Linked DNA regions of Homo sapiens. The protein of the gene in region 2 purifies or fractionates together with the protein of the main gene of each other region. This does not show direct contact. Each region holds a gene or a part of one and is shown on either strand. Other genes may lie near its edges.

Region 1 (3,352 bases), on a different chromosome or scaffold from region 2:
AGCAGGCATCACAGGCAGCACAGTCTCGGGCCTTCCAGGCCTTCTTTGTCCTTATGGCTCAGCCCAGAGGGTACCTGGATTCCATGAGGACCTACTATGTGTCTGGGAGGGCCAGGAGCACTCAACTGTGCATTATCTCAATTCTCAAAAAACACTCTACAGAGTGGCAACCATTATTTCTTGACATGAGAAAATGGAGGCTCCTCAAGTCCCACAGGTGGGAGATGGAAGAGGTGGAAATTCACATCCTGGGAGCCTGGCTCCAGAGGCCAGGCGCTTGGTCACTTTCCCAAGGTGCCAATTTCCATGCCCAGGCTGTGGACCAGCACTGTCCAATACACTAGCCGCATGTCCACACTGAGATGTGCTTTAAGTATGAAATACACACCAGATTTCAAAGACTCTCAATTTTTGACAGATGACATATTAAAGTGATAATGGTTTAGATCAAATACATTATTGAAGAATGAATCAGCCTGTTTCTACTTTTAAAAATGTATCTACTAAAAAATTTTAGGATGACATATGCGGTTAATTTATATTAGATGCCTGAATTTCTATTTCTGTTGCACAGATGGCTTTGCCTCATCAGATCTTTATAATAATCCTAATGAGATAGGGGTTATGTCCTCCATCTTTCAGATGAGGGAATTGACGCTCAGGTTAGATCACTTGCCAAAGGTCACTTAGTATGTAAATGGTGAGATAAGAATTCAAATCCCCGGCTGGGTGCAGTGGCTCACGCCTGTAATCCCAGCACTTTGGGAGGCCAAGGCAAGCACATCATGAGGTCCAGAGTTCAAGACCAGCCTGGCCAACATAGGGAAACCCCGTCTCTACTAAAAATACAAAAAATCAGCCAGGTGTGGTGGCAGGTGCCTGTAATCCCAGCTGCTCGGGAGGCTGAGGCAGGAAAATCACTTGAACCTGGGAGGTGGAGGTTGCAGTGAGTGGAGATTGTATCACTGCACTCCAGCCTGGGCTACAGTGCGAGACTCTGTCTCAAAAAAATAAAATAAAAATAAATAAATAAATTCAAATCCCAAAGGTCTTGCACAAAGTAACATAGATGGTCCATGCCAAGGAGTTCTCCTAATTGTAAAGTTCCCCATAGGAGGCAGTGAGGAGATGGGAGGTGGTGTCTGTGCTTCCTAAGTACCTTTTCCACATCTATATCAAGGGGCCACCCCACTTTTGCTGAAACAACCACCAGTTATGAGGGTCTTACTGCTTCTCTCAGAACTGATAGTTTTGATTGTTCTCATATCAAGGTCCTGAAAACTTTACCCGTGGCTTCCCCTCCACATATTAGTTCCATATTTTGGATAGTACAGAGAAAAGCCTGGCTCTTGTTAGAGACCAGTTTGCAAGACCATGGGTGGTCCCACTCCCAGGGCCCCTGTCCCCGTGCCCCAAGTCCTGACCTGGAGTGAACTCCTCAATGCATTGCCAGGGCTGGCTAAGGCGGCCAGGATGGCGGTGGTGGTGGTGCCGATGTTGGAGCCCAGCGTGAGTGGATAAGCCCTCTCAATGGTTATCACGCCGATTCCTGGGGGAAACACAAAACACAAACATATCAGCCCCATGGGATGACAGGAAATGGCAGTGGTGGCCAGAGGGAGAAGCCAGGGTGTAACTCACCAATCAGGGGGGTCAAGGCCGACGTGAACACAGAGCTGCTCTGTACGATGAAGGTCATGCCTGCCCCGACGAGGATGGCCAGGTAGCCAGTCAACCATGCAAAGGGAAAGGGGAAATCTGGAAGACAGAAGGAAGAGATGTCATGGCCTCTCCGGGGAAGGTATGGCCTGGTGGCCTGGGGTAGGGGCTGGGCTTAGGGGTGAGGTTGTACATCATCCCATATATGGTCTCAGATTACAGAGTAGAGTTTTAGAATCCAGTTTCATTCCCCATTGTCTTTTGCTCCGCATATTCAGATGGAAAAACCAAGGATACAGGTAAGTGTTATGAAAACAAAAACACAGATTCCCTGGAGGTCAGGTTAGAAAGAGTGAACCCACCCAAGTAACCACTCTCCTTCCAGAAAGTGCTGAGAGCATGCTTCCTCGCCTGCCCTGGTCTCCTGTCAGCACCCACATTTGACCTTCAACCTTCATTTCTGCCTTAAAGAGCATCAAGAAACTGTAGCAGCTTGGAACATGCCTGCCAACTGAGTCCTCCACCCAACTAGCACCGGATCAGGCCCTGCATTTCCCAGAAGCACCCAGAGTTGCTCTGTTCCCCAAGACAATCTGGGGTGGGGGGCGAATTTTCTTGGCTATATTTCACTGAGCTTTCATGAAGTGATGATGTCATTGGCTTAGCGAGCTCTCATTGGCCAGGACACCCTACTTGGCAGGAAATCCTCTTAGCCAGCAGTCTCATTGGCCACCTCTAGATGCTGATGTATTTATGCATCACATTTCCTTTACAAGAGTGAAGGGAGGTGGGGGCGAGGGCAGACACCTGGGGTCCTTTTTCTAAGGGGTCTTGACAGAGCCAGTAAAGCTCTGAGCATACAGGAAACCCGCTAAGAAGGAAGGCCTGACTCACAGCTCTCTAGATATGAACTCCTGCTCAGGACCTTGCCAAGATGCAATGGAAACTTGGGCCTGCTCCCTAGACCCCACCCAGGATGCCAAGAACATTTCCAGGTGAATGACATCCTCACTTCTGGTGCTGATCCAATCTGAGAGAGAAACTCCATGCAGAGGCCATTGCTAGATGGGAATCTAAAGGACCCCCACACCCCATGCAGTGACTACATGTGAGGCCTACAAGTGAGGGCAGTGTACCTACCAGTGTTGATGGTCTTCTTGATGACAGTGGCGACCTGCCCCTTGAGCACAGAGCCCAGGATCTTGACAATCATGATCAGGCAACCACAGAGGACCAGCAGGGAGAGTATGAGCAAGATGGTGCCCACAGCAAGATCCGGGAGGTGGAAATTCACAAAGATATGCTGGCCTGAAAGACCACAAAGAATCTTGTCAGGAGGGCATGGAGCCACCACGGCTACAGATTGTTATTTATTCCCCCAGATCCTGTCTTTCCTACAAACAGATTCCTGGTTGTTAGTTTAACAGATGGCAGCCCCAAATCAAGACAGCCCTTCTCAGCCTCCTTCGCAGCAAGGGGCACCACTGAAACTATGTCATAATCAGTGGGATCGCATGAGGCTGGAAGATGAAGTGATGGCTTTAAAAATCACACAACTGTTCAGGGGTAGACTCAGCCCAGTTCTGTCTCTAAAGACCATGCTGTCGATGGTCTAATTTTTTTTTTTTACTAATGATAAGTATGCTTTGAGGGATTCGATGGGCAAGTCAAAGTAAGGGGCATTGCTAATTAT
Region 2 (3,653 bases):
CGGAGAAGGGCGTGTCTTCGGCAGGCTTCACCACGACAGTACAGCCGGCTGCCAGGGCGGCCCCCACCTTCCGGGTGATCATGGCACTGGGGAAATTCCACTGGGGTTAGAAGAGCAGAGGAAGTATGTGAGAGGAAGGACCACCTCCTTAGTGCAAAGGAAGGCATGTTGGGAAGTCAGTGAACAAATTTCATTGCACAACTGATTGACAAACCCGTTTGGCTGCACAGGTGAGCTCTCAGAACACCTGACCCCCCCGCCAACTTGAGGGACTCTGAGATAAAGGCTCTTGAAGACAGGAAATATTTTTAGAATTTAACACAGTAAAAAATTAGTTAGACCAGGGGTCAGCCAACTTTTTCTGTGAAGGGCCAGATCGTAAATTTTTTAGGCTTTGTAGAATGTATGGTTTCTATGGCAATTACTCAACTCTGCAGCTGTATTGTGAAAACAGCCACAGATAGTAGGTGTATGAATGGGTGTGGCTGTGTCCCAATAAAACTTTATTTACAAACATAGGCAGTGGGCTGGATTTGGCCTGAGGCCCATGGGAGTAAGTATTAGCAATGGTTTTGAAAATGGCAGATGATTTATTATTCCTTCCACATACATATTTATAAATGCCTATACATATACCTATAATAACAGTATTTTATTTTATTTTGAAAAACTCTATTATATAGTACTTACTCTGTATCAGGTATTTTTCTAAGTACTTCAAAATTAAAATTAATTAAATCCTTATCACAACCCAATGAGGTTGATATTAACCTCATTTGCAAGTTCAAGAAAACGGAGACAGTGCAGTTAAGTAATTTGGCCAAGGTTGCACATTTAGTAAATAGTGACCTTCAAGTCAAACCTAGCCAGTCTAGGCAATCAGGGGGATTCTGTCTGTAACTATGCTGAGCAGGAAAAACACAGACGTCTCGAGACCAGCTGACAGATACAGGAGAGAGGTTAATATGGGACCTAGTAGAAGGCAGGACCCAGAAGGAAAGCTGGGCGTTCCACAAATATACTGCAGCCCCATCCAGGCAGATGTGATACCTTATTTCTTAGCCTTTTTACCTCTAGAACCTGGCCCAGTGCCTGCTAGTGGGTCCACAAATGCTTTGTTATTGATGATAACCATCAATTAAGCATAACACTTTTTTCCAAACTATGGCAAGTTTAAAAATGTATCATATCTTAAGTCTTTTTAAAAATGATAAATACTGGAAGATCTTTTCAGAGGTGCTAGGCAATGCCAGGAAGAAGCCTCCATGCCAAGTCAGAAGAGCCCCTGGGTCCTCCTGCGGCTCATCCCACTTTTGCAGGCATTAGAAATGCATCATTCCACTCACTGCCACCACACCTAACATCATCACAGAGGACTAGGAAACACACTTCCACATCCAGCAAAAGCATCAGGAAACCAGGAACAGGTGACAAAACTAACAGGATGAGCACACCTGCTCACGAGGAAGAATGAATTGTTTCCCAACTCCCTATCCAATCTCCCACCCTAGGATCTTGCTGATCCTGTCACCTACCGGGGTGATGACTGCAGCCACGCCTATGGGCTGCTTGAGGACCAGGGCCCGCCTGTCCTTTGCCGGGGTGTGGATAATGTCTCCGTAAACACGGCGGGCTTCCTCAGAGAACCACTCTAGGAAAAAGGCGGAATAGAGAATTTCTCCATGTGCCTCCTTCAGTGGCTTTCCCTAAATTAAATCAGAAAAGAACCCACGTATTACCTTCTAATAATAAAAGCATGGCTCTGTGTTCCTAAATTCTTCAAGATGCAACAAGAGTAGAAAAGTCTCCTATAACGATACCCATAGAGTGGGGAAAATTTCTGACTTTGGTGTGAGTTTTAAAAAGCAGAATTACAATGATGAATGTATCACCCTAAACCACAAGTCATTGCATTCTCAATATGTTTACAAATTAGGAAACATCTAATTTTTTCCTCCTTTCAATATCTTCTAAGTATTGTAACCACGATATGAAATAATTTATTATATCTATGGAAGAAGTATTGGTACATTAAAAAATGTACAAAAACAAGTTTAAAAAAAAAAACAACCAAAACAGTAACATGGAAAAAAATCAGAATGGTGAAACAGCAGTTATTCATATAGTTGCAAACAAAATCTATTTTTGGATACTATTAAAGAATAAACTAGAACATACAAATATTATTTTAGCAAATCTAAGTACCCTGGCACAATAATGATTTGGTATTTGATCAGTAGAGAAGGAATCACATATTCTTCAGCTACAGCCAGCAGTGAAGGGAAGTCAGCGGCTTTCCCAAGTTTAGTGTAAAAATTCCTGGAGAATTTCTCAGTGCACCAAGCCAGAACCCTGAACTTACACTTTCAGCTGTGATTATTCTGGCAAGGTCATCCTTATTTTGTATCATTAAATTGTACCACTTCCGAAGTAATGAACTCCTCTCCTGCAAAAGAAATAACAAGGCAGAAAAGTAATAAAATGCCAAGTGTAAGACAGAATGCTAAATAAAATTCAATATCCTAAAATATTAGCTGTATGGTCTCATTCTCCTTGGTTGTAATGGTTAATTTTATGTGTAAATTTGACTGGGAGACCCAGATAGCTGGTAAAACATCATTTCTGGGTATGTCCGTGAGTGTTTTCGGAAGAGATTAGCATTTGAATCAGTAGACTGAATAAAGAAGATTTGCCTTCAAAAATTCAGGTGGGTATCATCCAATCTGCTGAGAACCTGAAAAGAACAAAGTGGCAGAGGAAGAGCAAATTCACTCTCTGCATGAGCTAGGACATCCATTTCCTCCTGTTGTCAGACACCAGACATTGTCATTCCTGGTACTCAGGACTTTGGACCCAGTCTGGAACTCAGACTGGACATATCAGCTTTCTTAGGTCTCCAGCTTGCAGACAGCAGAGGGTGGGACTTCTTAGCATCCACAGTCACATGAGCCAGTCCTTTATAAGAAGTCTCTTCCTATATTCCTACATATCTATGATTATATATATACACACATACACATATATATATACACACACACACATATATATATACACCCACACACACACACACACATATATATATATATATATATAAAACATTGGTTCTATTTTTCTGGACAACCCTGAGTAAGATGCTTGGGGAAACATACATTGAACTTCTGTGTTTTTTGATTGTTTGTTTTTGAGACAGGGTCTGGGTTTGGACAATGAAAAGCACACAAATAAAAAAAATCAAAAATTTAAAAAAATTTTAAAAAAGAGACAGGGTTTTGTTCTGTCACCCAGGCTGAAGTGCAGTGGTGTGATCATACCTCACTGCAACCTCTGCTTCCTTGGTTCAAGTGATCCCCCCAGCTCAGCCTACTACTGAGTAGCTGGGACCACAGGCACACATCATCACGCTCAGCTATTTTTTTAACTCCTCTGTGTCTGTTACAACTTTAAGCAGAATGTGACTCAGGCACTACATTTCCATCCACGAGACTGGCTCTGAGTTATTTCTGAACAGCTTTATGATATGCTTAGGTAGGCTTGTAACTTTGCTTCTCCAAACTATACTTTTCTTTGGAAAACAAGCCCTGTGGAGAGTTCCTTCCATCAAGTTGATTCAGTTTAACCTATTTCTAGAGGACTAGTACATGCAGAATTGGCAA
Region 3 (3,653 bases), on a different chromosome or scaffold from region 2:
AGGAAGGGGCTTTACTGGCCCAACCAGAAACAGAAACTAAGCACCCACGACTGTATTCTGACCCTTGGACACCCCCGCTCTATACTCTAGCCCCCTTAGAGATGACTCAAGGTTCCTGAATCCCTGCCAAACACTTGCATGCCTCCCTCCTTGCTATTCTTTCTGCTTAGAATGCTCTATATCTGCTGGTAAGCTACTTCTCTTTGAAGGTCCAGCTCAGCTGTTTTAACCATTGAGAAGCCTTCCTTGACTTCTCCAGGCAAAAATCAGTCCCTTCCCTGGACTCCCACAGTGCTCAGTATAAGCTTCTGTTATGGCACTATAAGTCATCAACATCTGATCTTCCCCCAGTAGATTGTGAGGTGCTTAAGGGATTCCATCTTATCTATCCTAGGAGCTTCAGCATTAGCATAGTGCCTGGAATATGGAAGTGCTCAATCAATGTTAGATGACTGAATGAAATGGTTTGCTCTCTCCACATGGCCCCACTTACCTGAGCACAGTCCCTGGGTAGAAAGCTCATGGCAGTGGCCAGGCTGCCCTGGGCTGCCAGGAGGTTGGCATACTGAGTGACCCTGTAGGTTGTGGCAGGGCCTGGGCTCACCCCATGAGGACCCCGCAGTTGCTCCAAGCTCCTGTTAAGAACCATCACCTTCTCCATCAGGTCCTGTAAGGGCAAGGATGAGGGTGGTAAGCCTTCAATGAGGCATATCCTGCTCTCTAAGTCCACGCAGCTCATTCAGGGATCTCCCACTATGGGTACAGATGAGGGCACCTGACCATACCTAGGTGAAGGCAGCAGATGATGACACGTAAGAACTGTGACAGAGAAGGGCCACCTGGCCTCACCTCCCAAGCTGTTAGGATTGGATTTAACTGGACCCATCTGGGTCTTAGATTTTTGTACATCTCTACCTCTTCCTTTTGCTTTTTTACCCTTTCTGCTTATACATCACCAACCACAGACTCTGTCAGACTAATTGTTTCATGTGCGACTTTTGTCTCTCCATGAGTCTGTGACCCCCACTTTCTGTGGTCACCCACAGAACACCTGGAAGTTTAGATCCACAGAACTTTCCACAGTAGCTAATAGAAGGGCCAAGCCACAATTACTCAAGTACTGAATACATCTGTAAAACCAAACCTGAAATAGGAAAAAAATTATGAAGACTAACACTGAAGCAGCTGCTGCTTAGTCTTCTCTGAGGGAAGAGGAGAAGATCCCAGACATTCAGGACCTTTCGCTCCTCCCTAACACCGTGGTTCCAGCCTGTCCCAGAAGATTCGCCTCTGCTAGCTCTGCACATCTCCACCACTAGCCTCCTAAGGGCCTGGTGTGGAGTGGCCAGTACCCTGCAGAGAAGGGGTACCTGCAGAGCCATGGGGGACAAAGCCTGGTGGCATTTTGCCCAGCACTCCACCAGCCGCTCCACACTCCCTGAGCACACATAACAGAGTCTGGCTTCGGAGGTTAGTGCCCTGCTGCCCTCCTGTTCCATGCGAGTTCCCAGCATGTCTGCAGAGAGAGGGTAATTTCATTAATGGCACAGCTGCCCTGTGTGCCTCTCCTTCTCCTGTTTGGAAACAGGGAGAGGACCATGAGCCTGGGACAAGTAGCTGCAGTTTAAGACAACACTGAGACTCACCTTGCTGTACAGAGAAGGGGAAAGTTCTCACATCATGGTGTGACAAGACAAGGTAAAACAGGACAACAAAGGATCCCCTCTGAAAATAGGGGCATGCACTGTGGTCCCTGCCTCCTGGCTGAGCCAGATTCTAGCCCTGACAACATTGCCTCGCCTCCCACAGCTCAGTCTGCTCCTCCACCTCCCTCCTGCATGCATCCTTTGACTCCATGCTGGAGTCACACCATTTCATCCTGAAGCCTGGGACCACACTTACCACAGAGCTCGGGAAATTTCTCTGTGCCTGAGTATGTCAGTAGCAAAGCCAGTGCCTCTCTCCAGTTCTTCAGGCTACAGGTACACACCACATCCTTCCAATTCTTTTGCACAACACAGGCTAGAAGCTGTAATGGGCAGAGAGGGAAAGAGACCATCAGCCATCCATCCAGCATAGGCAGCAGGATTCCTGCACAGGCCTCCTGTTAGAGCACTGAGTAGGGGCAAGGGATGAGGTGGGGGTGGTTAGAGTAGAAAGAGAGAGGCAGGCAGATACTCAAACATGGGTCCCAAGGTGTGGGTATCCACCTCACAAGGTCCAAGTAATCCCCTCCCTTCTTCTCCTGCATGATGGGCAGTTACCGAGGAGATTTTGGTTTTCTTCTTGGCCAAGTAGCGCTCCTGTGTTTGCTTCAGCAGATCTGTACCCCCAGCCTGGGCCAGGATAATGGCATCAGCAAAGCGCTCCTCCTTCAGACACAGCTCCACGGCCGGACCCAGTTCCCCAAGCAGGAGAGCCTGGCTTAGGAGTCCATCAATATCTGCAGGCAGAAGCATCCCCTGTGCATTAGTTGCTCTCAAACCCCAACTTCCTGCCCCCTGCAGGGCCCACAGCACACCCTCTATATCTCTATATCACTCAGTGTGCTTGGCTCCAAACTAAATCCTCAAGTTTCACTCCTTGGCAATAAAATGTATTTTGGTGCCCAGGTCTAAAGACAGGGCCCAAGACAAGGGAGGGAACTGATGTGGCAGTAGCACAGTGTGAGGTGTGCTTGATCACAGTGGGCAGGGCCACAGTCCTTTCAGCAAGAAGGATAGAAGAAAATCTGTTGGTAGAAGGCCTTCCATAGGAAGGACGTATCCATGAAAATCTACAACCAGAGAGAGCTCTAACTGGTAAGCGACTCACTCAGCATTTGAGACGGTGGGAGGAAGGCACGAGGCAGGGGACAAGAAGGGAATGTCTCAAGTCCAAAACCTCCGTGCCCACCTAGTCCTAAGCAGAGACTCTCCCTCTCCCTCAGGGTCAGGGTACCTTTTGTGATGGGGATCTCCCAAGGAGTCATGTTCTGAGGGACCAGCTCATCAAAGAAGGCTGAGGAAGCAGAGGCTTCCTTTGTGGTGTGTTTGGAGGCCTGTATGAGGAAGGACAGAGGTGACTACTTAGGGATGAACCCAAGACAGACAGAGAGCTGGCTTAGTAGCCCTGAGAGCTCTACTATTTGGCCGTTAATGGGTAAAACTAAAAAAATAGCCAGGTAAGGTTTGGGGAGGGCCATAGTTCATGGTTAAGACACAGCTCTCCACTCCCAGCCCAAAAGCTTAGGGACTCTGTGTCTCACTCTGGTTCTAAGAGAGTGAGGAGTCTGAAGACTTCTACAGACGCTAAACACTTACAGACAGCAAAGAAAAGGGCCAGGAAGGGAAAGATGCCCAAAAGGCAGGTTTCCTGTGTTACCATAGGTCAGGCTGACTGGACTCCTACCACACCTGGCTGCAGAAGGCCTGTTGTCTGTCACTGTTGAGGTCATTTCCCTTGGGCTGAGGACTCTCACCTAGCCCCACGTCACTCTTCAACCATGTGGCCACCTGCAGGGAGAGACCTCTGAAAACCGCTCTTTCAAGCGTAAGATCAAATAAGCATTATCCTCTTTTCCTATCTCCATACCCCACCAACTGTACTCTCTAAGATCCCTGATCTATTTTTTTCTGAGAAAAAAACAAACTCCAGGATGTAAAATGCTCACA

What was found.
Region 1: the proteins of ALDH5A1 (region 2) and SLC34A2 fractionate together in Homo sapiens (co-fractionation; one large-scale study listed by BioGRID). This does not show direct contact.
Region 3: the proteins of ALDH5A1 (region 2) and SEC31B fractionate together in Homo sapiens (co-fractionation; one large-scale study listed by BioGRID). This does not show direct contact.

The regions. Positions count from the first base shown.
Region 1 is NC_000004.12:25,672,702-25,676,053, reverse strand, and holds part of SLC34A2 (sodium-dependent phosphate transport protein 2B), read right to left. Parts: intron 2,968-3,352; coding exon 2,800-2,967; intron 1,759-2,799; coding exon 1,642-1,758; intron 1,550-1,641; coding exon 1,425-1,549; intron 1-1,424. UniProt on the Homo sapiens protein: Involved in actively transporting phosphate into cells via Na(+) cotransport.
Region 2 is NC_000006.12:24,501,316-24,504,968, reverse strand, and holds part of ALDH5A1 (succinate-semialdehyde dehydrogenase, mitochondrial isoform 2 precursor), read right to left. Parts: intron 2,447-3,653; coding exon 2,363-2,446; intron 1,707-2,362; coding exon 1,536-1,706; intron 101-1,535; coding exon 1-100. UniProt on the Homo sapiens protein: Catalyzes one step in the degradation of the inhibitory neurotransmitter gamma-aminobutyric acid (GABA).
Region 3 is NC_000010.11:100,495,765-100,499,417, forward strand, and holds part of SEC31B (protein transport protein Sec31B), read right to left. Parts: intron 3,495-3,653; coding exon 3,396-3,494; intron 3,041-3,395; coding exon 2,941-3,040; intron 2,444-2,940; coding exon 2,265-2,443; intron 2,030-2,264; coding exon 1,903-2,029; intron 1,517-1,902; coding exon 1,371-1,516; intron 668-1,370; coding exon 494-667; intron 1-493.